Homo sapiens: one gene and its partners. The protein of the gene in region 3 interacts with the protein of the main gene of each other region in a pairwise test. Each region holds a gene or a part of one and is shown on either strand. Other genes may lie near its edges. The genes, in order: PPCDC, ATXN10, ZNF232 and VBP1.

What was found.
Region 1: the proteins of ZNF232 (region 3) and PPCDC interact in binary tests that used the Homo sapiens proteins (3 or more experiments, as listed by UniProt).
Region 2: the proteins of ZNF232 (region 3) and ATXN10 interact in binary tests that used the Homo sapiens proteins (3 or more experiments, as listed by UniProt).
Region 4: the proteins of ZNF232 (region 3) and VBP1 interact in binary tests that used the Homo sapiens proteins (3 or more experiments, as listed by UniProt).

The regions. Positions count from the first base shown.
Region 1 is NC_000015.10:75,026,581-75,033,606, forward strand, and holds part of PPCDC (phosphopantothenoylcysteine decarboxylase), read left to right. Parts: intron 1-1,666; 5' UTR 1,667-1,738; coding exon 1,739-1,873; intron 1,874-7,026. UniProt on the Homo sapiens protein: Catalyzes the decarboxylation of the cysteine moiety of 4-phosphopantothenoylcysteine to form 4'-phosphopantotheine and this reaction forms part of the biosynthesis of coenzyme A.
Region 2 is NC_000022.11:45,737,829-45,744,854, reverse strand, and holds part of ATXN10 (ataxin-10), read right to left. Parts: intron 6,125-7,026; coding exon 6,016-6,124; intron 4,487-6,015; coding exon 4,317-4,486; intron 1-4,316. UniProt on the Homo sapiens protein: May play a role in the regulation of cytokinesis. May play a role in signaling by stimulating protein glycosylation. Induces neuritogenesis by activating the Ras-MAP kinase pathway and is necessary for the survival of cerebellar neurons.
Region 3 is NC_000017.11:5,108,873-5,116,084, forward strand, and holds the start of ZNF232 (zinc finger protein 232), read right to left. Parts: upstream 3,007-7,212; 5' UTR 2,951-3,006; coding exon 2,928-2,950; intron 2,348-2,927; exon of another isoform or gene 2,204-2,347; intron 997-2,203; coding exon 522-996; intron 181-521; coding exon 54-180; intron 1-53.
Region 4 is NC_000023.11:155,233,443-155,240,350, reverse strand, and holds the end of VBP1 (prefoldin subunit 3), read right to left. Parts: intron 4,123-6,908; coding exon 3,984-4,122; intron 1,580-3,983; coding exon 1,509-1,579; 3' UTR 510-1,508; downstream 1-509. UniProt on the Homo sapiens protein: Binds specifically to cytosolic chaperonin (c-CPN) and transfers target proteins to it. Binds to nascent polypeptide chain and promotes folding in an environment in which there are many competing pathways for nonnative proteins.

The DNA of each region.
Region 1 (7,026 bases), on a different chromosome or scaffold from region 3:
CCTGGGCAGAGAGGCTAGAGAGCCAAGGGGCCTGTGAGTGAAGAGGAGATAGGCCCCTGTGGATGCTCAGCCATGGAGGTAGCCATTGGACAACTCACCAGCGCTGCTTCCTGGGCAGCTGCCTGGGTTTCCCTTGCCATGCTGATTCTTTTTTGAGTGCATCTTCTAGGACCTTCTGTCTTGGAAGGAGAGCCCCTTACTGCTCTCTTTCATGTATTGACTCAAAGTTTCTGCTGGAAGGAGCTTCAGAGATCATCTGGTCCTACCTCTGCATTTTTCAGATGAAGGGACAGGTCCAGGGAGGGAATGACCCTGGACCAGGGTCACTCCAGGTCAGGAGCACACCATGGTCAGGGCCCAGGGCTTCTGCTTCACAGGCTAGGTATCTGTCTTCTGCTCACACTGCCTTGGAGGGTATAGTTATTCATTCAGCACCTGTTCAGGACTGCCGGCTAGTGGACTGCTGGTTGGCAATTAGACCCGGTCACACATTCAGGGAGCTTGCTGGTGGAGGGAGAGGCAAGGAAACTGATGTGTTAATTGAGTCTGTGATCACCAAAAAGGTGCATCCCAGGGAAGGACTGATCTCAAATAATTTCAGACAGGTGTCATTCCTGTCTTCTCAAACTCAACCTACAGATTCCCCAGAGGCAGCTACTGTGTTTTCCACAATTCCTTTGCATGGTGTTCTTTGTAATCGGTCCTCAGTGATGGTTGCTGATGAAGCACGTTCTGCTGGCCCAACCCGCCACGTGTAGGTTTTGGTGTCCATCAGCCATATTATCATGAGTGCACACTTCTAGCAACGTCTGAGAGCCAGAGGAAGAAGCAAACCAGCTAATCTCCTGGGGTGGCCTGCATCCCCTTTATGCTGGTTTCTTCCTGGGCTTTGATTTGTACGGTGGTGCCCATCTTGATTAACAGGGACAGGGACAGAGAGGCAAATCTCTTGGCTCCCTGGAGCACCCAAACCTCCCTGTTGCCCAGGGTTCCACCTCATGAGCATCTTTGGAACCCATCCCTTCCTGCCGCTTCCTTTCACCAGTCAGCCCAGTCCACCGCAGCAGCTCCTCTCGCCCTCCAGTCTCTCCACTAACAGGGTCCCTTTGACACTGTCACCAGGTGCCAGCACCGTCTTTCTAAAACCAAAACTCCTCACCCTGGCCCTCGCTGCCCACGGCATTCTGGCCTCACCCTGACTTTCAGTCTCACTTTCTGCCCCTCTACCACCCCCCATCACAGTCCGGCCTCACTAGTAAGCCACTCCCTGTTCCCCAACCTGCCACCCTCCTCAGGACCTTCACCTTGGCAAGATTGTTCCTTCCTTTGAAGTGATTTCTTCCTGTCTCTGAAAAACTAACTCATCCTTCAGGACTCAACCCCAATGTCATTTTTTCTGGGATGCAATCTCTGACTTCTAGAGATGGTCACCCTGAGCAGCCACGCACCTGGTACAGCCCTTCCCCACAGCACTGCATCATTCCCTTGTGACTGGCCCATGTGTGGGGAAGGTGTCTCACTTTCTTATCAAACTGTGTGCTCCCTGAAGCCAGGACTGCTGATCCCTTCCGCTGCCTCAGCCTCTGGCCTGGGGCCTAATACGTGGTGCTCCATACATTCTGGTCGACTGTATGAATGAAGGGGGTGGCCCTTGTTCTCCTTTTAGATCCTAAATCCCGACAGCTTTATAGAGCCCAGGCCTGGCAGGCTCCCAGAACTTGAAGCCACCAGACCCCACATGGAACCAAAGGCCTCCTGTCCAGCTGCTGCACCCTTGATGGAGAGAAAATTCCATGTTCTTGTGGGTGTCACGGGGAGTGTCGCAGCCCTGAAGTTGCCTCTTCTGGTGTCAAAGCTTTTGGACATTCCTGGGGTGAGTATCCTCACCAGATAAGCATGGCAGCCTCCGGCATGGGAGGCCGGTGCTCCCGGGGATGGCCCATTGCTCTGCAGTACATGCAATTTTCTTTTTCTTTATCATGTTAATCATGCTTGTGGAGGTCCTGTGTGTGTGGTGCTCTGTGGAGGATTCAGGAGACAGAGACCAGTGCCCAGTGTAACCAGGGGCTAGATTAGATAGTACAGACAGGGCATGAGGGGAGACTGGGAAAGGACCCAGTGAACGGAGGGTTTGGGCTCCCATACATTAACCCTGAGAATCCGTGAAGTCCTGTGTGGGAGGAGGGCTGGCTGGAGAAGTGCAGCAAGTTCTCAGTATCCCCTCCTGCCTTGGGCTTCCCCATCCCTGCTTTCATTCCGCCTTGAACACTGCGGCTGTGTTCTCCCTCCTCGTGAGACCTCATGGTTGTCTTGTCAGTCAAATGCTCTGAAACCCCATTGTCTGAAGCTCTAGGTTCAAACTTTGCTCCTTCAGGTGTTCAGAGCTGCCCCAGGGGCCCCCGACTGTGTGCTGGGGTGAGGGACTCTAGCCCCCGTCCTTGGCCAGACCCTCAACTTGGATCTATTTTCTATATTGGGGTTCTGGTGCAGAAGTTCAAGGCTTTAAACAGCGTGAAATCTAACAGGGAGTGGCCCCACTTCCTAGTTCCACCTCCAGGGCCCTTAGTTGGTCTGTCTTATCCCCCTTGGTCTTTGCGTGGCTGGGCCCTGCTAGGCTGGCTGCCCTCTCTGCTCCTCTCTCGCCTTTTCACATTCTGTGCAAAGCCTTCCCTGTCTGCCCCAGCCCAGCCCCTGTGGTTTTGGCCCCTTCTTTTAAACTTATTTGACATAGAACTATAGGTTGCCTTAGACACTGCTGGTGTTACTGGCCCCTAGTTTTTGGTGGGGTCTTGTGAAGTTGCTGGGCCCCAGGCCTGGCTTTTCCCTCTTGTTATCAGCTGAGCACCCAAGGTGCAGTGGCCGTATCTGGCATGTCCAGCAGGGGGCGGTGCTTACTCACAGATGACCACGTGGTCACATCAGCTGGGGCTGGGCTGGGAAGTGTTTCACTTTTTTACTTTCCACCAACTTCCACCCAGAAAGTCACCCCATCACCCCACCCCCAGGGCTGGGATAAGCCATGAAGCTGCCAGCCAGGGATGACAGCCAGGCCAGAGTGGGGGAGGGAGGAGAGTCTCGTGGCACTCTGACACTGGGTGCTGCACTTTTAGGGCAGTGCTGCTTAGGCCCAGCCACCCGCTGTGTACCCAGAAGCATTGGTAGGAGCTGCCCAGCTAGAGCCGTGAGGGTGGGAGGCCTCTGCCACCACCCCCTGGGGAGGGAGGGAGCCATGCAGTTCCCTTTTCCCATAGCCCCAGGGCAAGTGAGTTTCCGGACTAGGGGTGGATAGGGGCGGGGAGTCCTATCCCAGGAAACAGATGGGCAGCCTCAGAGCGGAGGGAAATGGCAACCCTACCGCTTCCTCCCATCCCACGCAGCCAGCGTTTGGTGGGAGGGGGGTTGTGAGGAAAGGGTTGCCTGGAGCAGGGAGGTGCTCCAGCCCACCCCAGGGCCTTTTAGCCTGGGCCCCATGGGATGGCAGGCCATGTCTGGAACAGGACTTGGCTTCCCCTCTCTGGTTGGAGTTGATGCCAAAAGTGAGGCAGCCAGAGGGCACTGAACTGGGAGGGAGGGCTCCCCGACTCAGCCTCTTGGAGCTTGCCTTTCCCATTTGAAAATAGGGCTGATTCCTGCTGCCCATCCCCCAGACTCTTGTCAGGCTCCCTGAGATGTTGGCTGGGGTGGGAGGGGTCACAGATGAAAATGGTCCTGTGCCAGTGACTCAGCACAGAGCCTGGCATGTTGAAGCACTCGGTTGTGTGTGTTTCCTGGCCATCACCCTGTCCTTTCCCCTTGTTCATGTCCTTTGGGCCAGCCACATGGTGTGGGGCAACCCCACTGGGAAGAGCCATGGAAGCCACAGTTCACCTGCTCTTGTGGAGGGCCCATGCCTTTCATCTGCAGGGAGACAGCTCTCCAAGCCTGGCCTTGCTTATTAGGGCCCTCGTGAGGTGTTGGGATCCAAAGGTAATCCCTGGATTGCCTTGTGTTGGCCCCAGTGGTGGCGTCTATCCCTGCACACTCCCCTTCACTCCCTGATGGCCCTGATCTCCACATTGCCTCCTGCTGGATCTCCTGCAGGAGCATCATTGTCCCTTGGAGCAGTCACTTTCAGCTCTTCACCTGCTGAGTCGTGGGTTCAGGTGCTCAAGGCTTTCCGGAACTTCCTTAGGTACATCCAGATTTTGTCTAGCACATGAACAGCTGGGGTGTGGGCTGCAGGGAGCTGGGGGATTCTACAGATCTGGCCCATCACTGTTCCTGATTGACCAGTATGTCCAGACATCCCGGGAAAGCCGCTAATGTCAAGGTAGCCAAATCAGGGAGACTGTGAGGGGTGGTGGAGAGACATGGATTAGCCACAAGCCACACACACCAGCAGTCAGGGAGAGTAGTCACTAGCAGAGATGACCTTGAGTATGTTGGGGCAGGTGGGCAACCGTGTCACAAGAGAGGCAGCTGAGCACATTTCTGACGCTGGGACCCTGGGCAAGTCCGTTCTTTTTGGCCATAATTTTCTTATCCACACAGTGAAGGAGGGGCAGGTTCTCAAATGATCCATCTCCAGGGCCTCTTCTGGCACTGGTGTTAGAAGATTCTAGATGTGAGGGCAAAAAGGACTAGGACCCAAAGGCAGCCTGAGAGAAGGTCCTGGGGCTCAGGAGCTTCAGGATGCCGGGGGTTTTGTAGTTCCGTAGTTGTCATGTAATTGAGTGGCAGTAAAATCCGGGTTGTCAGCTCAGGCAGTTTCTTCCCTGGGGTTGGCAGCCTGGCCCATGCAGGGGAGCAAAAATGGCTTTCCTCCATCTTGCTAGGCTGCTTGGCTGGGCTATGAGTTCAACTGACTTATAAACAAAATTAACAGGGCCGGGCGCGGTGGCTCACTTTGGGAGGCTGAGGCGGGCGGATCACTTGAGGCCAGTTCGAGACCACCCTAGCCAACATGGTAAAACCCCAGCTCTACTAAAAATACAAAAATTACCCGGTTGTGGTGGGCGCCTATAATCCCAGTTACTCAGGAGGCGGAGGCAGGAGAATCGCTTGAACCCAGAAGGCAGAGGTTGCAGTGAGCTGAGATCATGCCACTGCACTCCAGTCTGGGTAACAGAGCAAGACTCCATCTCAAAACAATAACAACAAAAAACAAGATCAACAGGAGAAAACCATATTTAGTTACATATCTGCACATGGGTGTACCACAAAATATGAGATTCCCAGAAGGGTGAGATGGCTGAAGCCTGTATAGCAGCCTGAGCTACAGAAGGAAATAGGGGCTTGGGGCTTCTGGGGGTGGTGGCGACACAAGTTATGGGAGGGTGAGGGGAGGAATTATACGGTCTTGTTAGGCAGATAAAAACCTCTCAGATAATAAAAGATGCCTCAGCAGATTGTCAATAAGTCAGTCTTCCTTTCTCAGGGAGGGGGACTCAGGACAAGGGGAATCCCTCTTTAGGCAGATAAGAGAAGTTCAGAGAAAGTTCCTCCCTGCATTTGTTTTTCCCCCAGTGCCTTCAGGTTTGAAATAATCAGCATACCAAAGCCGCATATTATGGGGTGGCATTTCCTGAACTCCTTCATCCACACCCTTCAAACTTGGGAGGAGAAGACAGACATCGCCCTAGCTTTTGCCAGGGCAGGTGTCAGCAGAATTCAGAGCCAAAAGGGGATTTCTAAAGATAGAGAAAACCCCCAACTCAAGGAGTCAGCAGGCCTCGGGCTCAGAGAAGGATACATTTCTAGGGTGTCTGTCAGGACATCCAGGTCTGTCGAGGGTGAGGAAAAGAAGGCTCTGCTCATATGCAGTGTGGAGTAAATTCTGACTTTCTGGAGGACCACTTGACAATATTGAGAGAAATTAAAACATCTTCATAGTCCTTGATTTACCCACAGGATTAAACTCTGTGGGGTGTATTTACAAAGTGAAAGGATGTCCATTATAGCATTATTTATAATTTCAAAGCAAAACTGGAAGCAAACAAAATATCCAGCAGTAGAGAGCTGTGGTGCCCTTATGATTTATGGGACAATCTCTCAGTGGATTACTTGGCAATGATTCAGAAAAATGGGGTGGCTCTCTCTGTGCTGAAGGGAGCAATCATCAAGATGGAAGCGGAATAAGCAGGGTGTAGGAGCTAGCAAACTGGACCCCCCCCCCCAAGGCCAAATTCGGCTCTGCCTGTTTTTGTATAGCCTACAGCTAAGAATGATTTTTACATTTTAATTTTTATTATTTATTTTTGAGACAGGGTCTTGTTCTGTTGCTCAGGCTGGAGTGCAGTGGTGTGATCACTGCTCACTGTAGCCTTGACCTCCCAGGCTCAAGCAGTCCTCCCACCTCAGCCTCCCAAATAGTTGGGACTGCAGGCGTGCCATCACACTCTGCTAATTTTTTTGCATTCTTTTTGTAGATACAGGATTTTGCTATGTTGCCCAGGCTGGTCTCAAACTCCTGGGCTCAAGTGATCTGTCTGCCTCCACCTCCCAAAGTGCTGGGATTACAAGCATGTGCCACTGTGCCTGGCCTGATTTTTACATTTTTAAATGATTAAGTCAAAAGAAAAATAGTATTTTATGACTCGGAAAAAAAGTGATATGAAATTCAGATTTCATGTCCAAGACAATTTATTGGAACACAGCCATACCCATTCATTTACGTATTGCCTATGGCTGCATTCGTGCTACTACAGAGTTAAATCATTACGACAAAGCCTAAAATATCATCTGGCCCTTTATAGAGAAGGTTTGCCGACCCCTGGTATGCAGCCTGATTCCTTCTGTGTGTTCTTATACTGAGTTACTGCACACAGTTTTTTCCTCTGGAGGTGGTTACCCTTGTGAAGGGGGACCAGTGGAGGAAGGGAAACTTGCATTTTTCATTTTTGTATCATTCTGTTCAGTTTTAATTTGTAACCTATGTGTATATTTGTGTGTGTGTGTTTTTTTGTTTGTTTGTTTGTTTTAAGTCAGTGGGGCTTTTGGTGGGAATATTGGGGAACATTCTTGATAAGTTTGTGCTTTTTTTTTTTA
Region 2 (7,026 bases), on a different chromosome or scaffold from region 3:
CATTTCTGTGCAGATTTTCAATCTGAGGCAACGTACCTTGATTCTCTTAAATCTTGCCCAAAGACAAGTATCTCAAAGAAAGATGACCATCCTTCCAGTTGATACCATGCTCCTGGCAGTCCAGTGCCTGTCCTTAGAGAGAAATGCTCCTGGCACAGCCAGCCCAGAGGACACATCACCCCCCTGTTCCTTTCTGACAGGCCTCACCACACGGACTTTTGCTACAGCTCCTAGTGGACATGTGTCATTCCACCACTAAAGCGACTGTCTTCTCCAGAGCATGCAGCACACGGCAATTCTCACTCAGCAAGTGCTAGCTGAGTTAAATCACACTTGGTCTCGGGGCCTTGGTTTCTTCATTTAGAAAATGATGGTGGAAATATCTTTTCAGCCCTTTCCACAGAGGTATCATAAGGCTCCAACAAACTAAAGCAGATGAAAAGAGCTCTGGAAAATGGAAAGTGCCACACAAGTGTAAGAGGGCCATCCAGCAGGTGGGCACCATACTCACTGCAATGGATGAAGTTACACAGACAACACAGACACAGTTGGGCTTGAAAGAGTCTTGCTCAAAATTCAGAGGAATCAGGCAGTACACAAAGATTTTAGGAAAATCTGTGTCATGAGTAGTTTTGAGATTCTGATTCAAAGAGGCAAGCATGGTCCCCAGATGATGCCAGAATGGAAGCTCCACAGAAGATATTAATACCTTGCCTGAATTACCCGTCAAAGGATCCCCAAGCCAGCAAACATTCGTATTTGATGAATGGGTGAATCAGAAACAAGGATAAGAGGACCCCCAAGAGCTCCCAACTTCAACCAGGAGGGAGTCTAAGGGGCCTGGCTGGCCTAGGAGACGCAGACTGACCAGCCTCCAGCCTGAAGTCCTGCAGGAAGTCTATTTTAAACCCTTTTCTCCAACCTTTTGGCAAGTTCTCACCATGGGGCAGGAAGTGAGCACAGGCCTGGGAACTCAATAGGCAAACAAATCCAAATTCTACCCTGGGCTCTGCACCTAACTGGATGGCCTCTCCTTAAAATGTGGTTACCAGAACCTGCTTTGCAAGGCTGATGCAAAGATTAAAGTTGATAATATATGTAATTCACTAAGCACAATGCAAGGACATAGTAAACACTAAACAATAAATCATCAGTCCCTTTTGTCTTCTGGGCAAAGGAGGAACCCAAATTAGGCTAGATGATACGAAATCCCTCCCAACTCAGATCTTTAGTCTTGGAGCAGAGACAGAGCCAAATTTCCCTTAAAGCCCTAGCTGGGTTAGAAGTGAGACAATCCATCAAGACAAAACACTGAGAATTACTGGTCCCGTGATAAAGACCTGCTACATAACCATCCATTCCATTTTCCCAAAACTATAACCAAAGTCATCTGAGTGCGAGTGAATTCCATCCCTTGAGGCAACAATGAGCAAGGCAAATATCTGTAACACCCAGCTGGAACAAGGATTTGGCTACAAGAATAAAGAACACTCTAGCACATCCAGAACAAGATTTCGGCGTTGTGTCGGTCTTTGGAAGGAGGAAAAAAATCCCAGAGGTAATGCTTTCAGGTTCAGGCCTTTTGTTGACACACGTAAGAAACTGAGAGAAACAGAGGGCATTTGAGTTGATACTCAAAGAATGAACTCCTTCATACCCTCTAAACTGTTTGCTGAGAAATCAGCAGTGCTATTAGCAACTGCACAAGTGACAGGACACACCATCGACTTCCTGTGCGCCCCAGTGACCTCTGCACAGCAGCACTTGGGCACACTCCATATTTACTTATGGTGCAATCTGATCCTGACTTCAGTGAGTTATTTCGCAAGCCTTTTAAGGGTTACTGCATTTTGTTCCTATAAGAGGCCAGTCCAAATTAGCAACAAAAGAATAGTTAAACACAAGAAAAACCACCTCTTTTGTGCTCAAGAAAGGCAGTCCTGGTCATTAAAAAGGTAAAGTGCTTTATTCGCTATCAACTTTCTTTTGCAAAAATCAGTCCAGTAATTTCCCAAGGGGGGAATCAGTAGTCTCACTCTCCTGAAGATGAGGATTGCCAAAATGGTGCGCCCATATACTAAAAGTGCAAGTTGTCTAGCGTTTGGTTCTGCGCCATGTCTCACAGGAATTATTCCAGCTATCAACGGCTACATAACAAATTACCCTAACATTTAGCATCCTAAAGCGGCCGTTTTATTTTCAATCTTTCTCCCCGCTTTTGTTTTTCAGACTAGATGATTTCTACTGATGTATCTTAAAGTGTACTGGCTCTTTCCTCTGTGATCTTTCTTGAGGTTAAGCACATTCGGTATTTTTTTTTTTTTATTTTAGATACTGTATTTTTCAGTTCTAGGATTTCCATTTGGTTCTTTTTTATAGTTTCTATTTCTCTGCTGAGATATCCCACCTTTTCACTCTTATGAAGCGTATCTCCTTTACATCCTTGAGCACGGTTACATTTGGTACTTTAAAATCCTTGTCTGCTAAGCCCAGTATCTGTGTCCTCTCACAGTCAGTCTCCGCTGATCATCTTTTCAATTGAGAACAGGTCACATTTTCCTGAACGTCAAGCAATTGTAAACTGTATCCTGGACATTACAGGATACATTATGCTGTGGCAATTCTGGATTATATTATATTCCTCTAAAGAGTGTTGATTTTTTTTTTTAGAGGGCAATTATTAATTATCTACAGTGTAAGTTGGACTTAATACTATAAACTCTAGGGTGGGAGCTCAAATCTCAATACAATGACTTCATCCTTAGCTTAGCTGCCTGGAGCCTGCCCCACACGTGTGATTCAGCCATTAGCAGAGATTTAGGTAGCTGACACCCAGAGTTTGGGGTCTGTTTTCTACTTTCCACAATTCCCCCCTCACTTTCCAATGCCATGGTTGCCCTCAAACTGTTCTTTGATTCTTCAAGCTAGAAAGACGGAAGATTTTGTAACTGACTTTTCACTGCCCTGCATGCCACACACTGTGTCATTCCCTTCTTCCAAGCATCAATTTCACTCCAGAATCTGCCCGTTTGTGTCAAATTCGAGTGTCTTCACATGGCTATTTTTTGTCCAAAGTTTATAATTGCTATTTGAAGAAGGATCAGTCCAACAGTAACTGACTGGGCTACTAACTGAAGCAGGACCTATATCCCTTATTTTTTTTTTCTATTTTTTACTTTTTCTCATAATACTATGGGTCATAAATTCAGGAAGGACTATGCCCAGTAGGGGGGCCCTGATCTATGTGGCATCAGCTGGGCAAGTAAGAAACTGAGGATGGATCTACTCCCAAGATGGTTTCTCGCACACATCTCATGCCTTGATGTTCCTTCACCAGACCTTTCCTCTCTCCTCATTGTATCTTATCTTCCAGGGCTTTTCCATGTGTATTCAGCAACTCGCAGCAAGGTGATCTCTGGGAATCTATACTTCTTACATAGTGACGGGCTTCTAAGAAGCCAGAAATAGAATCAGCTAGACCAGTTAAGGGCTATGCTACAAATGGTATAGGATCACATATTTGATTGCTCACAGCAGCCACAGGGCCTGCCCAGATTCAAGTGGATGGAGAAATAGATGCCAACCCTCGACAGGGGAGTGGCAAAGTCATACTGCAGACACACATGTACAATGCAAGACATTCTGCCACCATCTTAGAAAAATATAATCTGGCAGAAATTTAATTAATATTTAACTAAGCAAATCAAATGCCACCCGAAGTAAAACTCCAGAAAAATACAGAAAGGCGAGATCAATCTGAAGCATGTGGTCCAACTGCCCTGAGATCTTTCTTACCATTCTCTCACATTCTCAATATAACTACCTTTAAGCTCTTCTGCACATAAGAGGTTTCTAAAAGCAGCCTACTAGGTCCTCAAAGACTTCATACTTAAATATTATATTCCTTTTATATCCATTTTAAAACATCTAGAAGAAAAGGCTTATGATGCTATCGTCCATAAACATAGGATATAGATCTAAGCTTTGTTTTTTAAGATAATAGGCAATAATAACTAGTGTTTATTAAATATCTACTGTGTGTTAGAAATTTGTCTAGGCTCCAAAGAGCCTATATATTAACATATACATATATATATATACACACACACACACACGTGTGTGTGTGTATATATATGTGTGTGTGTGTGTGTGTGTGTGTGTGTGTGTGTGTGTGTATTCATATAAAATATATATCTCTCTATCCAAGCTACTTTCTAAGCACCTCAAGCTTTCACTCCAAAAGAGTGAATGTCTTCCAAGGACTATATTCTAAATGAAGCCATACATGTATAATACATACTAAGAAATCCTCTTACCTTGTCTTGGTTATCTTTATTCTTGTAACACAGATTTCCAATCAGACGAATGAGATGAGACTTAAACCCATTGGCCACATTGGAGATGTCACCTTCTGCTCTCACGCAACCACAATTACTGAAGATGTTTGTGGTTTCTTTTCCAGCTACATGAATCACCCGCAAAAGATCTATAACCAAAAGAGTAAACTTCATTTTCCACAGAAAAGTAACTTTTAGTATGTTGTACTAATAGTTTTCCATAGACAAATCTAATTTATTGTAATAGGCTAAAGGTAGAGCACAGAAAGCTTTATTTAAATAATGATTACAAGGCTCTTCTGCCTTTGCTTCAAAAAATGATTAGAAGGCTCTTCTGCCTTTGCTTTAAATTTTTTGACTCTAGTTTTGGGGAGATAAGCCATAATGACTACCCCAACTCAGAGTTTCTATTTATCTACAAAAAAAGTTAGCTAAAAGTTTGCTAGCATCCTTCTTACAAAAAGGTTTCCAATCTCAACTTCTTTATGAAAGAACTTTTCTAATAACTTCAGTCAATGAAGTCTAAAACACAATATCTATCCATAATGATGCATATGACAGAAACCAAGAAGAGTGCTTATTTTTCCCTCATCCAACTGGCCAAATCATCAGAAGCCAGCATATGTTCTCTATACTTCACTCCAGCTACATTCAGGAGAAAGAACTTACCACTGCTCTACTCTATGAGCACCTCCAGGCAGCCAATGAAAACAGACAATCTTCCAGGAACTGCATTTCAGTGTTTCCACATTATCTCATTTAACCCTCTCAACAAACCTATACAGGAAGGTATCACTTTCCCAATTTTATAATGAAGAAAACAACAGGCTCAGAAAAGTTGGCACCTGGCAGAGCTGGGATGGCAACCCACATCGACCCTGGCTCCAAACTCAGGCTCCTTCCATAATCACTCAAGTGTGCTAGGTTTGTGGTGTTTTATTTAAATTATCACTAAAAGCAATGTACTCAAAATACAACACTGATGAGGAATTCTAAGGATCTTCCTCTACAGCTGACTGCTAGCTCATCTATACTGCTAGACACAAAGTCATCTTTCTCAGGACACTGGTCTCCAGAGTAAGTATCATCTTTTTAAAGGAAAAAATTGCAAATAATGAACAGCAAACCTAAGCATGGCTAGCCACAAGGAACAGGTTCTACTTGAATTATTTTGCAAACAGCTTTTTAGCAAGGTTGGTAATACTTTTAACAATGGTTTCTTGTTTAAAACCTTTTTCTCATAAGATTTGTATATATAATATGTATAAAACACCATTCTATGTGTTCACTAAATGTAAATGGGAAAAATTTACTGCCACATTTTACAAAGCTATAGTAATATAAAACCACAATCATCATCGCAAACCTGCCTGCCCCACCTTCTTCATCACATCCTATATTGATGAAACATCTACTATATGCATAACAGGCATTGTTATCCTCACATTACTGAGAAGGAATCTTCAGTTAACAGAAGGGAAGTGGCTGAACAAACACATGGGCTCAGGTTTATCTGGCCTGCCTGAACTGTTACAACACTGTGATTCCTCTCAAAAAAATATATTCACAAAATTCCCAAAGTACACTGAAAATTAAGGATTTGTATTTGGATTTATATTACAGTATGACAAGCCAAAGATTTCTTAGCTAAAAATACAATGTGTGATATTTCACTCACCAATCACTCTTTCCAGCAAGCCAGGGAAAACCTGCAGATAGCCGAGCAGCTCAGTATTCACAGTCATTTCGCACAGGACGTCGAGAAGCCTAATTGTAGCCAGTGCCTCCTAGAAAGAAAAGAAAACATAACTTTTTAGCATATTTTAAGAGAAATTATTTAACTGTTATAAATAACTGTAAGAGAATAAAATATTTCAATAAATTTAAAGAGTCTGTGCTTGTAATAAGTCAAAGAGAAAAACAAAACTATGAAGAACAAAACAGAAGTATGAAATATGTACACGACTCATCATTTTCACTAACAGCAGACATCTGCCATCAAGAATGCAAGATTATGTGTCATTATGTGTCTTCTTGGAGCAAAGAGTCAGAAAAGTTCTTATTCAAGCAAAAAGACATTCCAACAGTGGAATAAATGTTCAAAATTACTAGCTATGTACATGACATTTATGCAAATACTTTCTTTTTAAAGCATTCCCAGCATGCAAATTCCACTTTAAAGATACAAATATCCCATAAAATACATTAATTTCTTGTCCACAGAAATCCTGTAAAATGCTGTGGTTGAAAAAACTCTGGCTTTAAGAACTTGCATAATTTCTGGGTAAATATGAACTTCTATGCAATATCTTGGTAGATTAGAAAGACAGTACTGTTTGAAAATGCTACTTCACATAGCTACTAAATAATTTATCAAATACACTGCATGACCAAGAAACTACCCAGTACCAACTGCATAGCATTAAGTAGTCTATACAAAAATTTTAAATGTAACTTTTGTATAGATTTTGAACCCCATTTTTAAAGTACCCATCATTTGACAAAATGTGGCAGAGATTATAAAGTTAGTCCATAAAGATAACATTCTTCACATTGGGAGGCCGAGGCCAGAAGATCACTTGAGGTCAAGAGCTCAAGATCAGCCTGGTCAATATGGTGAAATCCCGTCTCTAGTAAAAAAAAATATAAAAATTAGCCACGCTTGGTGGTGGGTGCCTGTAATCCCAGC
Region 3 (7,212 bases):
CCCTTTATAGTCCCTCTTTCTCCTCTCCCTCCCCACAGAATCCTGCTCCTCACCACTCTTTGGGAAAGGCTGGGTCTCCTTAGGCTGGAGCTGGATGCTCAGTGCTTCCTGGGCTGCTCCCAGAGATTCCTTCTTCTCCCATGGCTCTTCCTGTGCAGGTCCATGTGCAGGGCCTGGGACCTGGAGGTGATCAGGCACCACTCAGTTTAAATTTTCTTCAAATTACTAGTGTGGTTTCTGTCCCCTGCCTGGACACTTGCAGATGTGACCCTCCTTGGACCAAAGCTTCCAAGGAGACTTTAGAGAGCCTCCTCAGAGTCAGCACAAGGGAAGAAGAGGAGCTAGAGTCTCTTTCTCATTCAGGGCTCGAGGGCAGAAAAGACAGACACAGAAACACATACTAACTGCTCTACCTGGCCCAAGAGAGGTTTGAACTTGGCACCTCCCCCTACAGCTGCCCCTCGGTCCAGCCTGAAGGTCATCAATCTGGCTCCCATAACAGACCAAATCCCCCTTCCCACCTGCGGCTCTGGTTCAAGTCCTTTCTCTAAATCCTCCAGCACAGTCACAGCCTCCTCTCCACTCTTAGGGTGATGTCCCCGCACCCAGGATTGGAGCTCCTCAGGCAGGATGGTCAAGAATTGTTCCAGCACCAGGAACTCCAGGATCTGCTCCTTCGTGTGTTTCTCTGGCCTCAGCCACTCACAGCAGAGTACTCGTAGTTGGCTCAAGGCCTCCCGGGGACCAGGAGTCTCCTGGTAGCGGAGATGCCTGAAGCGTTGGCGGAAGATCTCTTGACTGGTAGAGTGGTTCCCAGGTAGCCTGGTCTCATACTCACAAGACTGTTCCTCTTCCTTTGGTCCCATCATCATCATCTTCTCTTGTCCCTGTGTACCCTGAAGGGCCAGAGTTTCAGCTGCTGTTAGTGATACAGCCATCCTAGTCTGCACTAGCTCTGCAGAAGGCTCATACCAGCTGGAATCTTGCAAGGGCCCCCTGTAACATAAGAAGAAATCATTCCTCTTTTTTTTTTTTAAGACAGAGTCTTTCTCTGTTACCCAGGCTGGAGTGCAGTGACATGATCTCAGCTCACTGCAACCTCCACCCCCGGGGTTCTAGCGATTCTCCTACCTCAGCCTCCCAAGTAGCTGGGATTACAGGCGCCTGCCACCACATCCAGCTAATTTTTTTGTATTTTTAGTAGGGACGGGGTTTTGCCATATTGGCCAGGCTGGTCTTGAACTCCTGACCTCAGGTGACCCACCCACCTCGGCCTCCCAAAGTGGTAGGATTACAGGCATGAGCCACCGCGCCCGTCCTCCTCTTCTTTTTTCATTCATTAAACATATACATATACTCAACACTCCAAAGAGCCAAACCCTGTCCTATGCCCTGTAGTCCCGCTTTTTCTTCCACCCCTCCCCAGAATTCTGCTGCACTAAGTCAATGTTTTTGAGAAACTTGCACCGTGGTAGAAACGGGGATGTAAAGTGGTTTTCTATAATACAACTAATTAAATGCCATTGACAGGAAAAATGTATCAAGAAAAAAAAAGTTCTGGGGGCCTATGGGAAGAAATGACTATTGGAAGAAATAAGTTTGAAGCAAAACCCAAGTTTCCAGATGCAGAGCCCAGAGCCGAGCAGCTTTCAGTGCAAGGTGGAATGTGTTGGGGAGGCAGCCTCCTCTGAGATGGCTCCTCCCTGCTTTCAAAAATTTCTGAAGTAGTAGCTACAGCAAAAGAAAAATATAAGTCCCCTTTAAGGAGCTGGATCTCATTCAAATGCCAAAGCCCTATTAAGGGGCAGCTATGAACAAGTCTCGGGTACAGTGGCCTGCGTCAAGGAAATCTAACAGGTGTAAACCAAAAAAGCATCTGAGATAGGTCTCAACCAATTTAGGGGTTATTTTGCTAAGGTTGAGGATGCACCCAGGAAAAAGACACACAAGCCACAGTAGGATCCGTGGCTCGCACTTTTACCAAAGAGGGTTTTGAGGGCTTCAATTTAATGGGGAGAAAGCTGGCAGGAGGGGAAGGAGGAGAGAAGAGGGAGGGTATGTGGTGAGGTAAGTGGCCACATTCTTGTGAGGATTTGATTAGAGCTCACTGAATCCACATGTTGCACGTGAAAAGAGGAAGTCAATTATGAATTTGTCTCGTGCTCAGTAAATCTGCATTTTACACAAGATAAGGTAGACATACAGTAGAGGAAGAAGTCAAATATGCTTTGTCTCTGGGTGGGTGGAGGAACGATTTCTAGTCTTGTCCGGTGAAGCTCGGCTGTTCGTTTCCATTGCCAGGGTGAGGGAGGCCACCTGGGGGCATATGTTGCTTTCTATCTTGCAGCTATCGGTTTAGGAACAAAAGGAAAAGCAGTTTTTTTCCGTGACTCAGTTTCCAAGCTTAACTTTTCCCTTTGTCATAGTAAGTTTGGGGTCCTGAGATTTTATTTTCCTTTCACACAGGGAAGGAGGTGGAACGCATCAGAGGCCACGAAAGGAGCACAAAGGGGGACCGCTGGCCTAAGACAAAGGAGGCGCGAGGAAAAACGCGGAGCTCGCGTCTCCCAGGGTGATGCCCGGCGCCGCTGGCCCCAGCAAAACTTCTCTACCCCGGCCTCGGGCAGGTGCCCGCCCGGGGAGGGGGCTGTCGTCCAGGCCAGGTACAACTCCCCTTCCCACCCTTCACTCCCTACCCAAGGGTCTCGAGAAAAGAGAAGAGGAACATCAAGACCCCCCTCCACGGCACGTGACGCGACGCAACGCAGGTAGCGCAGCGCGGGCACCACGGGCAACCCAAACCCCTCTCCACACACAACCGCGGAGCTGCCTGCCAGGCCTGCTCACTGCAGAGCCGCCGCTGCCTGCGGGACGGGCAAAAGCCAAGCCGCCAGGTGGACCTCGGGGAAGCCGCCGCCAACACTCACCTCACAGGACCAGGAGGTTCCATCGGGGCGCTGCCGCGAATCGCGCCACTTACAGCCCTCACCCCAGGGGCAGGTTTGCGCCTGCGCAGGTCGCAGCCTCGGCCTCCAACTCCCAGAATCCTCCTCGCCGCCGGCTTCCGTTCGCGGACTTTGGCCCAGGCGCGTGGGCGCTGCCGAGAGGCTGGGAGCCCGGGAACCGGTTCCTGGACTTGAGCGGAGCGAGAAAGAGCGCGCCGCCTGCACGACTGGACTGGAGCGGCCGGGTGCCCTGGAGGCCCCTGGGAATTGCAGTCCTTGCGCAGGTGGAGAGTGAGCCCTTGTAAGCGGGTGACTTCATCAAGTTTGGGGGGTCTCTTGTGGAATTGTACCTGAAGGGCGGTGCTGGCGGACAGATGTCAGGGAAATTCTGGCCTTGTCCATGGCCTGTGGTAACACTTCTCCATGAGTTCTATTTTCCAATTACCTCTTCCCAGACCTGATGAGAGGGCCACAGCTAAGGAAGACGGTCCCTTCCACGAAAAAATATTCCCCAACCACTAGCCTGTACAATTCCTGGGGCGTAGGGGGAGGGGAGGAGAAAAAAGAATTCTAAGGTTAATTTTATTGCGATGGGGGAAATAGGGGTTGGTGTTTTTTTGTTGTTGTTATTTTTTATTTTATTTATTTATTTGAGACGGAGTCTTGCTCTGTCGCCCAGGCTGGAGTGCAGTGGCGCGATCTTGGCTCACTGCAAGCTCCGCCTCCCGGGTTCACGCCATTCTCCTGCCTCAGCCTCCTGAGTAGCTGGGACTAGAGGCGCCCGCCACCACGCCCGGCTAATTTTTTTTTTTTGGTAGGAGACACGGCGTTTCACCATATTAGCCAGGATGGTCTCGATCTCCTGACCTCGTGATCCGCCCGTCTCGGCCTCCCAAAGTGCTGGGTTTACAGGCGCCCGGCCGATTATTTTTTATTTTTTTTTTGAGACATGGTGGCCAACATGGTGAAACCCTGTCTCTATTAAAAATACAAAAAGGTTAGCTGGGCGTGGTGGCGGGCGCCTGTAGTCCCCACTACTCAGGAGGCAGGAGAATCGTTTGAACCCGGGAGGCAGAGGTTGCAATAAGCTGAGATTGTGCCACTGCACTCTAGCCTGGGCGACAGAGTGAGACTCCGTCTCAAAAAAAAAATTAATTAAAAATAAATTTATCTCACTATCAATTTTGCAGGATATTGATTGATCCAGTCTCTCAATACTTTTATAAAATAGCTTAATCCTAGTCTCTCCAAGAAAAATTGTTGTTCAACTGTGTAGTACCATAGTAACAGTTCTCAGATTCTCAGATTATTAAATTTGTTTCTCCAAGATATAGTATCCTTGAAAATGCGCATTGACACCCCCATGGCTGGGGGATATATTATCTTTTTTCCTTCAAAGTGCCATTGATAATTACTGCACGTAGGAGCTATGGATAAAAATAGTTATCATTTGTTGAATGTCTACTACGTGTCTAGAACTATGCCAGGAACTTAATGAAATTGTCTTATTTAGTCTTCACAGTTGCTCCACAAGGGATTGTATTAATGTCATTATCTTGATTTTACAGATGAGAAAACTCAAGACTCAGAAACAATAAAGGTTACAGAGATGAAATTGACAGAGCCTGAATTTCAGTATGTCAAACTTCAATGTGCCATTATACTTTTAAATCCTACAGAACAGATTGAATCACAACTTCTACTTTTACATGAGAGAAGACAATGGGTCCTATGACTTACTGTCAGTTTCCTTTTCCTGATTTAATTAGCTGCTTCTGTATCTAATTTTGCTAGGAATGGAGGAATAAGGCAAATTCCCTAAACTACATATTGACATTTATACTAATGTGAAAACCTCAAGTCCATTTGCAGACTTTTGGATTAGATTCTGTCCCAGAAAGACATCCACCCTAGAGTTCAGGATATCATACCCATTTTACTGTTCCCCTGGCACAATTCATAGTAAGGAAAAACAGACAAGGGGAAAGCTATTAGATTCTCGGTGCTGCTAAACAGGACACACAAGGACACCATTTTGTGATGATGATGGTGCTTTATGCAGCTTCCACCATTTACAAGATTTTCCTGTGGTGTGGAACCTCTCATGATAAAGCAAAGGAACTAGAAGCTTATTCCAGTCAAGATTTCTGATTTATCTTGTGGTAAGCATTTGGGAAGGACATATCTGCACATGACCTGAGACTAAGTACTATACACTGAATCAGATGAAAATTGCTCTTAGGAAGCTTACAATTTTCCAAATAGTTAGGACAAAAACAAACTCTCCTTCTCTCTTCCTATATGTACATACTGACATCTTTATCATTACTGTCTTCCTAGGGTTATGATTCTGTATGGTTTCTTTGGTGCTGCATTAGACCTGAGCTCTGATTGAAAATTCTTCCACGCTCGCTACATTCCAAAACTTTATCTCCAATATGAATTTCCAGATGCCTCACAAGGTCTGAGCTCCATCTGAAGGCTTTCCCATGCTTGTCACATTCATAGGGCTTTTCTCCACTATGAATTCTATGATGTCGAATAAAGTGTGAGCTCTGATTACAAGTCTTTGAACATTCATTGCATTCACAAAGTTTCTTTCCACTGTGAATTCTTTGATGCTGAATAAGTTGTGAGCTCCCCTTCAAATCTTTCCCACACCCAATGCATTTATAAGGCCTCTCTCTCACCTTGTATGGATTCTCTGATGTTCTGTAAGGACTGAGTTCTGGCCAGGCGCAGTGGCTCACGCCTGTAATCCCAGCACTTTGGGAAACCGAGGCGGGTGGATCAGCTGGGCTCAGGAGTTCGAGACCAGCCTGGCCAGCATGGTGAAAGCCCCTCTCTACTAAAAATACAAAAATTAGCCGGGTGTGGTGGTGGGTGCCTGTAATCCCAGCTAATTGGGAGGCTGGGGCTGGAGAATTACTTGAACCTGGGAGGTGGAGGTTGCAGTGAGCCGAGATCGGGCCACTGCACTCCAGCCTGGCAGCAGTGTGAGACTCCGTCCCAAAAAATAACAAACAAACAAAAAAGACACCAGAGGGCTTTGGGTCCCTCTCTCTCTGCCATGTGAGGACCCTGTGAGAAGGCAGCCAGGGAGCTCTCACCAGAACCTGACCATGTTGGGCCCTGGTCACAGCCTTGCAGCCTCCAAAACTGAGAAAATAAATTTCTGTTGTCTGGCATCCAGTCTATGGTATTTTGTTACGGCAGCCCGAGCTAAGACAGAGGAAAACTGGGGGCTGATGTGACGGCGGGGACTTTAGGTAGAAGGACCCCACGTCAAAAGTCAAAGCTAAAAATTCTGGAACGAGCCAGGAAGGCATCAGGACGTCTCATTTTATTTGCTAGAGGCATCTTTTGGGGGGTGGGGCGGTGGGTGGGTGGAAGGAGATGTGGCCAGTGAGCCTCTGACTTTTAATTGAGTTATTTCGAAACAAGGAACAGAGGGCCGGATGTGGTGGGTCGTGCCTGTAATTCCAGCACTTTGCGAGGCCGAGGCCAGTGGATCACCTGAGGTCAGGAGTTCAAGACCAGCCTGGCCAACATGGTGAAACCCTCTCTCTACTAAAAATACAAAATTAGCCTGGCGTGGTGGGGGGCGCCTGTAATCCCAGCTACTCGGGAGGCTGAGGCGGGACAACAGCTTTAACCCGGGAGGCGGAGGTTACAGTGAGCCGAGATGGCGCCACTGCACTCCGGCTTGGGCAACAGAGCAAGACTCCGTCTCCAAAAACACACACACACACACACACAAAACCCAAAACGGAACAGAGGCAGTTCTGTATTCCAGAGGGATTGATTTGTGATGCCTGCTCAAAACTCAAGAAGCCACCACCCTGATACTCATCAAACCCCGGAGAAATTTCGTTTTTAGAGTGTCAGAAGGCCCCATGAATAACCTTCCAGTCACTGAGGGAGGTCCCTACTCAGCACGCCCCGGTCTCCTTCACTCTCCTGCACTCGTGCCTCACAGATGGCCTCATGCGCGGACTGGCGGTCCAGCCTCCCGGGGACACAGCCCGGGCGCACCCCGCGCCGCCTTTGGCCACTGAGGCGGTCCTCGAGGCGCCGGGCTAGGGAAAGCCTCCCCGGCCGTCAAGGCTGGGATAGCGCCGGGGGATCGGGGCGGGGTGCGTGCGCCGAAAGGGCCTCAAAGCTGTAGGGCTGGACGGCACAAAGGGGCGCAAGGCACGGAGGCCAGGCAGAGGGGACAGCTAGCGGCGCGGCGGGACGGGCGGGCCCCGACGCCCAGCTCCAAATG
Region 4 (6,908 bases), on a different chromosome or scaffold from region 3:
TCTCAATTGTTTGCAGATCTGTATTCCTTCCACAGGGATTTTATGGTGTTTCTAGAAATATAAGTTGTTCTTGGAACATGCTAGTATATGTACAAGTAAACTTTACAAATACGTGAAAAGACCCATGTTAACTTTAAAAAGGTGTTATTGTCTGAATCTTTGTGTCACCCCAAAATTGTTATGTTAAAATCTTAACCCCCAAGGTGATGGTATTAGGAGGTGGGGCTTTTGGGAGGTGAGTAGGTCATAAGGGCAGAGCCCTCATGATGAGATTAGTGCCAAATTAAAGAGGCCCAAGGGAGCTCCTTGCCCCTTCTGCCACATGAGGGCACAGTGAAAAGGTGCCGTTTACGAACCAGGACACAGCCCTTACCAGACACCAAATCTGCCAGCACCTTGATCTTGGACTTCCCAGCCTCCAGAACTGGGAGAGATAAATTTCTGCTGTTTATAAGCCCCCCACTCTGTGGTATTCTGTTATAGCAGCCCAAACATAGTAAGACAAAGAGTAACATGAAAAAAGTGCTCTGCCATAGTTTTAGCATCACTGTTTTAATTTCATGAAATACAAGTACAAAACATTGTATAAGTATACTTTTTACTACATGGAGATGAACTAATACATTTATGTTTTTATCAGAATCTGTATCACCCAGCGCTGGTCAATGTACTAGTAGCTTTCCACAGGGATTTTTTATACTATTCCTATAAGGTTTTATCATGAATAAAAAAGCTCACAACTCTTTTCAGCCATTGCAGATTCACATTTATCTTAATATTCCTGTTCAAGATGCTCTGGAGAACTGTTAAGAACTACAAAATCACCTTAGGCAGAGTTTTGAATGAGTAATTTTATTTCACGTTGGCCAAGATCTCCCTTATGTTGGCATTGCAAAGACACTGCACTTATCTGAGGTTAGAAAAAATGTAGTCTTAATAGCCCTCTTAATGTGTAGCAAGGCAAATTACCATTTCCTAAAATGTCCAGAATATCATAGTAGTTAGTTATTCGTTAAGCAGTAAGTCATGAAACTCCACTTATAGAAGACAATAGCAACAGAGGACCACTAAGTCCTAAATATACCAAAGAAAAACAAGTTTACAAATATTCAAACTGTCTGTCTTCTCTACCTCTAAAATGGTTTAACCACATCAAGTGAGAGTAACATCAGCCAATTAGAAAGGGAAAAAGTAAACTGTGCTAGCGTCCGGCATTCAGCTTCCATAGCATGTCTCACAGTTTTCGGCCATTTCAGCTAAGAGTTTTCTTATGACAGGCAAAAATAATGATTAAAATACCATTAGCTTTGCTGAGAAATGTGGAAAAAAAAATCACAATGTCAAAAATATTTGAAACTAATTTTGTTTTTATAAATAAATAAAATGGTGTTTATCTTTTCTTAAAATTCTTGCTGTTAAAACATTCAAAGTTATGTCAACCTGTAAGGATAAAGGGGTATTTAAGATAACATGTTTGGAAAACTAAACCACATTTTTAATTGCCAGCATTATGCTTTGTTCTTGGTAGAGTCATCCTTGTTTCTTCTTTTTACATCCCAATTATAAACCCTGGCCATATCTGCAAGAATTGTCAAAGAAAATGCAAATGCAATTCTAAAGATAATGCATGCAATGACTAAGTATTCACTCCACTCACACAATGAATCAAAGACACAGAAATGAAACATATACAAATACTGGTAACAAATAGTATTGTAAGACATCCTGCTATAATGTCAATTGTTAGGAAAATACTATAATTAAACTCTATCAAAACTAAGGACTCAAATTAATTGTTAACCCATTGTTTACTATGGTATTAGTCAACTGTCAGCTAGTCAACTATGATATATTTAACAAATATGTACTAGACACTCTCGATAGTTTTAAAGACAGTCCCTCATCCAAGAAATCTGAAAGATCACTCAACCCATATCCTGCCATGTAATATTTATATTATTACAATTATCAATAATTTTATCTCTTACCCTCCCTTTGGCTTAACAAGTTTATTAAGCATCTACTGTATTTTTGACTAGGCACTGTACAAAGCCCTGACCTGAATAAGACAGGTGAAGTTCTTTTCCTCGTGGAGCTTAGACTCCAGTAGAATGTCAATGTAACAGAGACTGTCCACCCTAGCTCCCTCACTTGTCTGCACACCTTCCTTTCCTACCTTTTGCAGTACTAGCAATAACAAATGGCATTTAACTAAGCTTGTAGGACTCATCTTAGAGGATTTCCTCACTTTTGGCTCCTGTACCCATCTAAGTCACTGGATCCTGTTTTTTTCTCACACGTTTAATATCTTTTCCTTTCCACAAGCCACCCGTCCTAGGCCCTCGTCATCTCATAGCTGGATGAAGTTTCCACACTACCCGTCAGATGATGATGACCACTGCACTAGGCCCCAACAGGCCTGCCTTCCCTCAGCCAACCATAAACAACTGCCACATGCTGCACACTGGAAAAGAAGAGAAAGTGCAGCTCCTACATCTGAAGAGCTCACGGTTTGGCAAGGTAAAACTAAGCAGTATGTGTTAAGCAAGCACACAAGAAACACTCTGAGGATCAGAAAATGTTCAGGAAAGCTCTGATGCTTGGACTGAGATATTTAGGGTAAAAGGGTAAAAAAAGAGCACATCCTGTAAATATGGGAAAGTCATTCCAGTTAGGAGGAACAAAGTGTAGAAATGCAAAGGGTGTGGCACAATTGGGGAGTGTGTACAATAACTGACTGGGGTTATCTGGAACCTGGAATGCACTGGGGAAAGGCAAGAAGAGGTCAGTGGCATGAGGTGAGACAAGCTGGGGGCACTTCACAAGAGTGCCTATATGTATATCTTGTAAGTAACAAGGAACCGTTGAAATATTGTAACCAGAGGAATAAAAATGAGTGACCTAGTAAATTCATACTAGAGATAGTGGGAAGGACAGATGGAATGAGAGGAACCTAAAAAGGTTCTGAGTGCAGGTTTTGGAGCCCCAGAACGAGAACAGTAATGGGCAGAGAGATTTATGAGGGAAATTTGATGTGAATCTGGCGACTGATTTATTATTGGTAGTGAGGAAGAGAGAAGTGTGAAAGGTGACTCCCGTGATTTTGTCTTGAGTGACTGTGACAGGAAGTAGGAGGAAAAGACAGGCCAGAGAAGAAAGGCAAAGAGCTTGCCTTCCCCCTTGACCAGAATACCCCACTCCCACCTCTTCTCTCTGCTGATCTTTAAACCCTACGCCGCCTTTAAAAAAGCAGCCTAACTTTTATCTTCTCAACAAAGCCTTCTTTGAACTAAGTCCAGCCTACATCTATCTTTCCCAAAGTTTAAATTGCCTTGGTGTTGCATATGTTAACTTACTTATAGTTTGCTATGAATTATCATTCAGCTGTTTTACATGTACAGTTCTACCAGAGAAAGGCACTGCCACTCTTTTCTAAAATTGATTTTCATGCCCCATATGTCTTAGCACAGTTGCAGGAACATAGGAGACCCTTAAATGCTTGTGAAATTAAACTATTTAACCAGTTATAAAGTTGTCTTGGGAAAATATTTGGAAGAAAAATACTTACTCACCTATGTGAATTTGCTGTTTCCACATCACATTTCAAAATCACTAATCTATCTACAAACTTATTTAAGTACTAGTTCCGAATATCTTATTTATTATCTTATAAAATCTATAACCTTTATATTAGCCTAATAAGGAAATTCTTCCCACTAAAGCAATGTAAGAAAGAATGTGGGAGGTTTTTTGTATTCTAATTTTTTTTTAGTTCTAGGGTACATGTGCAGGATGTGCAGGTTTGTTACAAAGGTAAACGTGTGCCATGGTGGTTTGCTGCACCTATCAACCCATCACCTAGGTATTAAGCCCAGCATGCATCAGCTATTTTTCCTAATGCTCTCCCTCTGCCCATGAAAGAATGTTTTTTTAAAAAAATCTTTCTCCTTTTTTCCCTTGCTTTTTGTTTTAAGAAAGGATACTGACTTCTGTGGTAGTAAATTGATCTCGAAGAAAGTCAAGGTCTTCCTCCAGGGAATCAAGATTCTTTGTGGCAGTCGATAAATTCTTTTCCAACAATGCCTGAGCTTCATCAATATCATATTCAAGCATTACATTAGCCTGAAGAGAGAAAGTCATGACAATTACTCAATATTTACACAGAGCTTTATAGGTTAGAGTAAAGTGTGGGCAAACTACAGCCCTCAGGTCAAATCCAGCTTGCTGCCTTTTGTTGTAAGTTAAGTTTCACTGGAGCCCAGCTATTCTCTACTCAGGCTTTCATACCACAATGGCAAAACTGAGTGGTTGAGACAGAGACCATGTGATCTACAAAACCAAAAATATTTACCATTTGACCTTTTACAGAAAGTTTGCTGACCCCTTGGTTAAAGAATATATTTACATACATTGTATCATTTAATCCTCAACCCTGCTGAGGCCAAAGTTGTCTTCTTCACAGTTAAAGAAATGAAGGCTCAGGTTTCCTTAGCTGGCATAGCTAGTGGGTAAATGGGAGAATCAGGATAAGAAACCAGTATGTTTAGATACAAAATCCTATCTTTCTACTACCTCCATCGTGAAACTAAATAGTGTTGTTTGTATCAATTTAAATAAATTCTGAGCTTGAGATATGATATTAATTTAAAATTTTTCAAAGACATTTATTATCATCTATATTTGACCAGGTAAAAAAGACAGCTAGCTTTTACCTGTCCCTTCCTACTACTTCTGACAGATGTTAGGGATTAAGACAAGGTAATGTGTCTGTCATTCTGAAGATCTAGTGTTACTGCCAACATTCAGGGATGCATGTACCCTGGAATTGGGAAGCCACACCTTTTACAGCTTTGAACTCTCCCTATCACCTGACTTACCACTGGCATTTCCTAAACCACTTTCCTCATCTCACAAATGCAATTTTAAAATTACTCAAAGGATTGTTGTAAGGATTAAACAAGACAACATGAAAGTATTTGGCACAAAGTAAATGCCAAATAAATACTTATTGACCAAATAATCCAATCCATAATTAGAAAACTGTATTAAAATTCAGATAGGACAAAAATATTCAACATAAGCAAAGACTGAACATAAATATAACAAGAATCCACAAAGAAAAAAAAACCAAAGCAGGGGACCAAAAAAATTTCTAAATCCTTCATTTCAACAAAATGTTCCTGAAATGTGACACATGCACATACTACACACACACACACACACACACACACACATACACACACACACACTGGGTGAAATGACACGCAAAATGAAATGAAAGGGTACTTTGTATACCTGGGGGAAACTGACCCAAAAGTCCTTTGAGCATCCAGGCAAAAAGAACACATCACTCATAGAAGAAAGAAATCAGTTTGCCCTCACACTTTTTGACAGTGATGCTTTACAACAAAAGAAAATGGGGCACTGTATAAGATGCTCAAGGAAATAAAATGTGAGTTTAAGATATTATATCCAGCAAAACTGAATTTCAAGTACAAAGGCCACAGACAAGTTGTCAGCAACATGAGATAACTCAGGGAATATCATTCCCATAAATCTTAAGGCAATCTACTTATCAGACGAATGAGTAACATACAATCAAAATGACTGGATGATGACTGGGGGGACATCAACATAAAGACTATGATGTGCATTCAATATTTACACGAAGAACTAGGATAAATGAAAGATGAGAGAGAGAAAGAGAGAGAGCAAACAGTATATAATGGCTCTGTGCTCCAACAATGTGGGAACAACCTTATAAAGAATGTGTAAGGACAGGAAGAACATATGCAAAAATGTCAGTGGTAACAGTGTTGGGTGGTGTTATTCTAAGAATGCTTTGCGTGTGAATAGTAATGTTGTCTAGCTTAATTCTATCACCCTTGGTATTTCTGAAAACCAGGATTCTTGATATAGAAGAAACAGGGGGGCCAGGCGCGGTGGCTCACACCTGTAATCCCAGCACTTGGCAGGCTGAGATGAGTGGATCACTTGAGGTCAGGAGTTCAAGGCCAGCCTAGCCAACATGGCGAAACCCCGTCTCTACTAAAAATACAAAAATTAGCTGGGCGTGGTGGCACGTGCCTGTAATCCCAGCTACTCAGGAGGCTGAAGGAGGAGAATCACTTGAACCCAGGAGGCGGAAGTTGCAGTGACCCAAGATCACGTCACTGCGCTCCAGCCCGGGCGACAGAACAAGACTCTGTCTCAAAAAAAAAAAAAAAAAAAAAAAAAAAAACAGAGGAACAACTAAAGTGAAAACTCTGTTGTCCTGAATTTGAATTGGAGGTAACAGTATGAAACCATGAGGTACACACATATTAACCTGAACCTTTGCACACAAGTTTATGCAGGTTAGCTATATCCTACTGGTTCTATTTCTCCGGTTGAACCCTGACAACAGATTCGTTCACTTACACTTTGCTTTATGCAGTTTTCTGATTTTTTTGTTTATATTTAATATTATATACATATAGAAAAGTATTCATATCATAAATATATAGCTTGATGTATTTTCACAAACTTAACACACTCATGGAACCAGCATCCAGATCAAGGACAGGTTATCACCAACACCCCAAAGCTTCCTTGTGAACATTTTCAGTTACCACCAGCACCCCCACCGCAAAGGTAACCATTAACCTGACTTACAGCATAGTTTTGCCTGTATTACAACTTTACATAAACAGAATGACACAGTATATGTGCTCTTTTGTGACTGACTTCTATAGTAGGCAAGAATTATGGCTCCCATAACAGCTGTCTCATTCTAATCTCTGGAATCTGTGACTCTGATGAGATATTTACATCATTTGTCAGAGCTGACCTTAATATACAGACTGCCTAGGTAGGCCTAATCTAGTTATATGAGCCCTTAAGAGCAGAGAACTTTTTCTGGCTGGCAG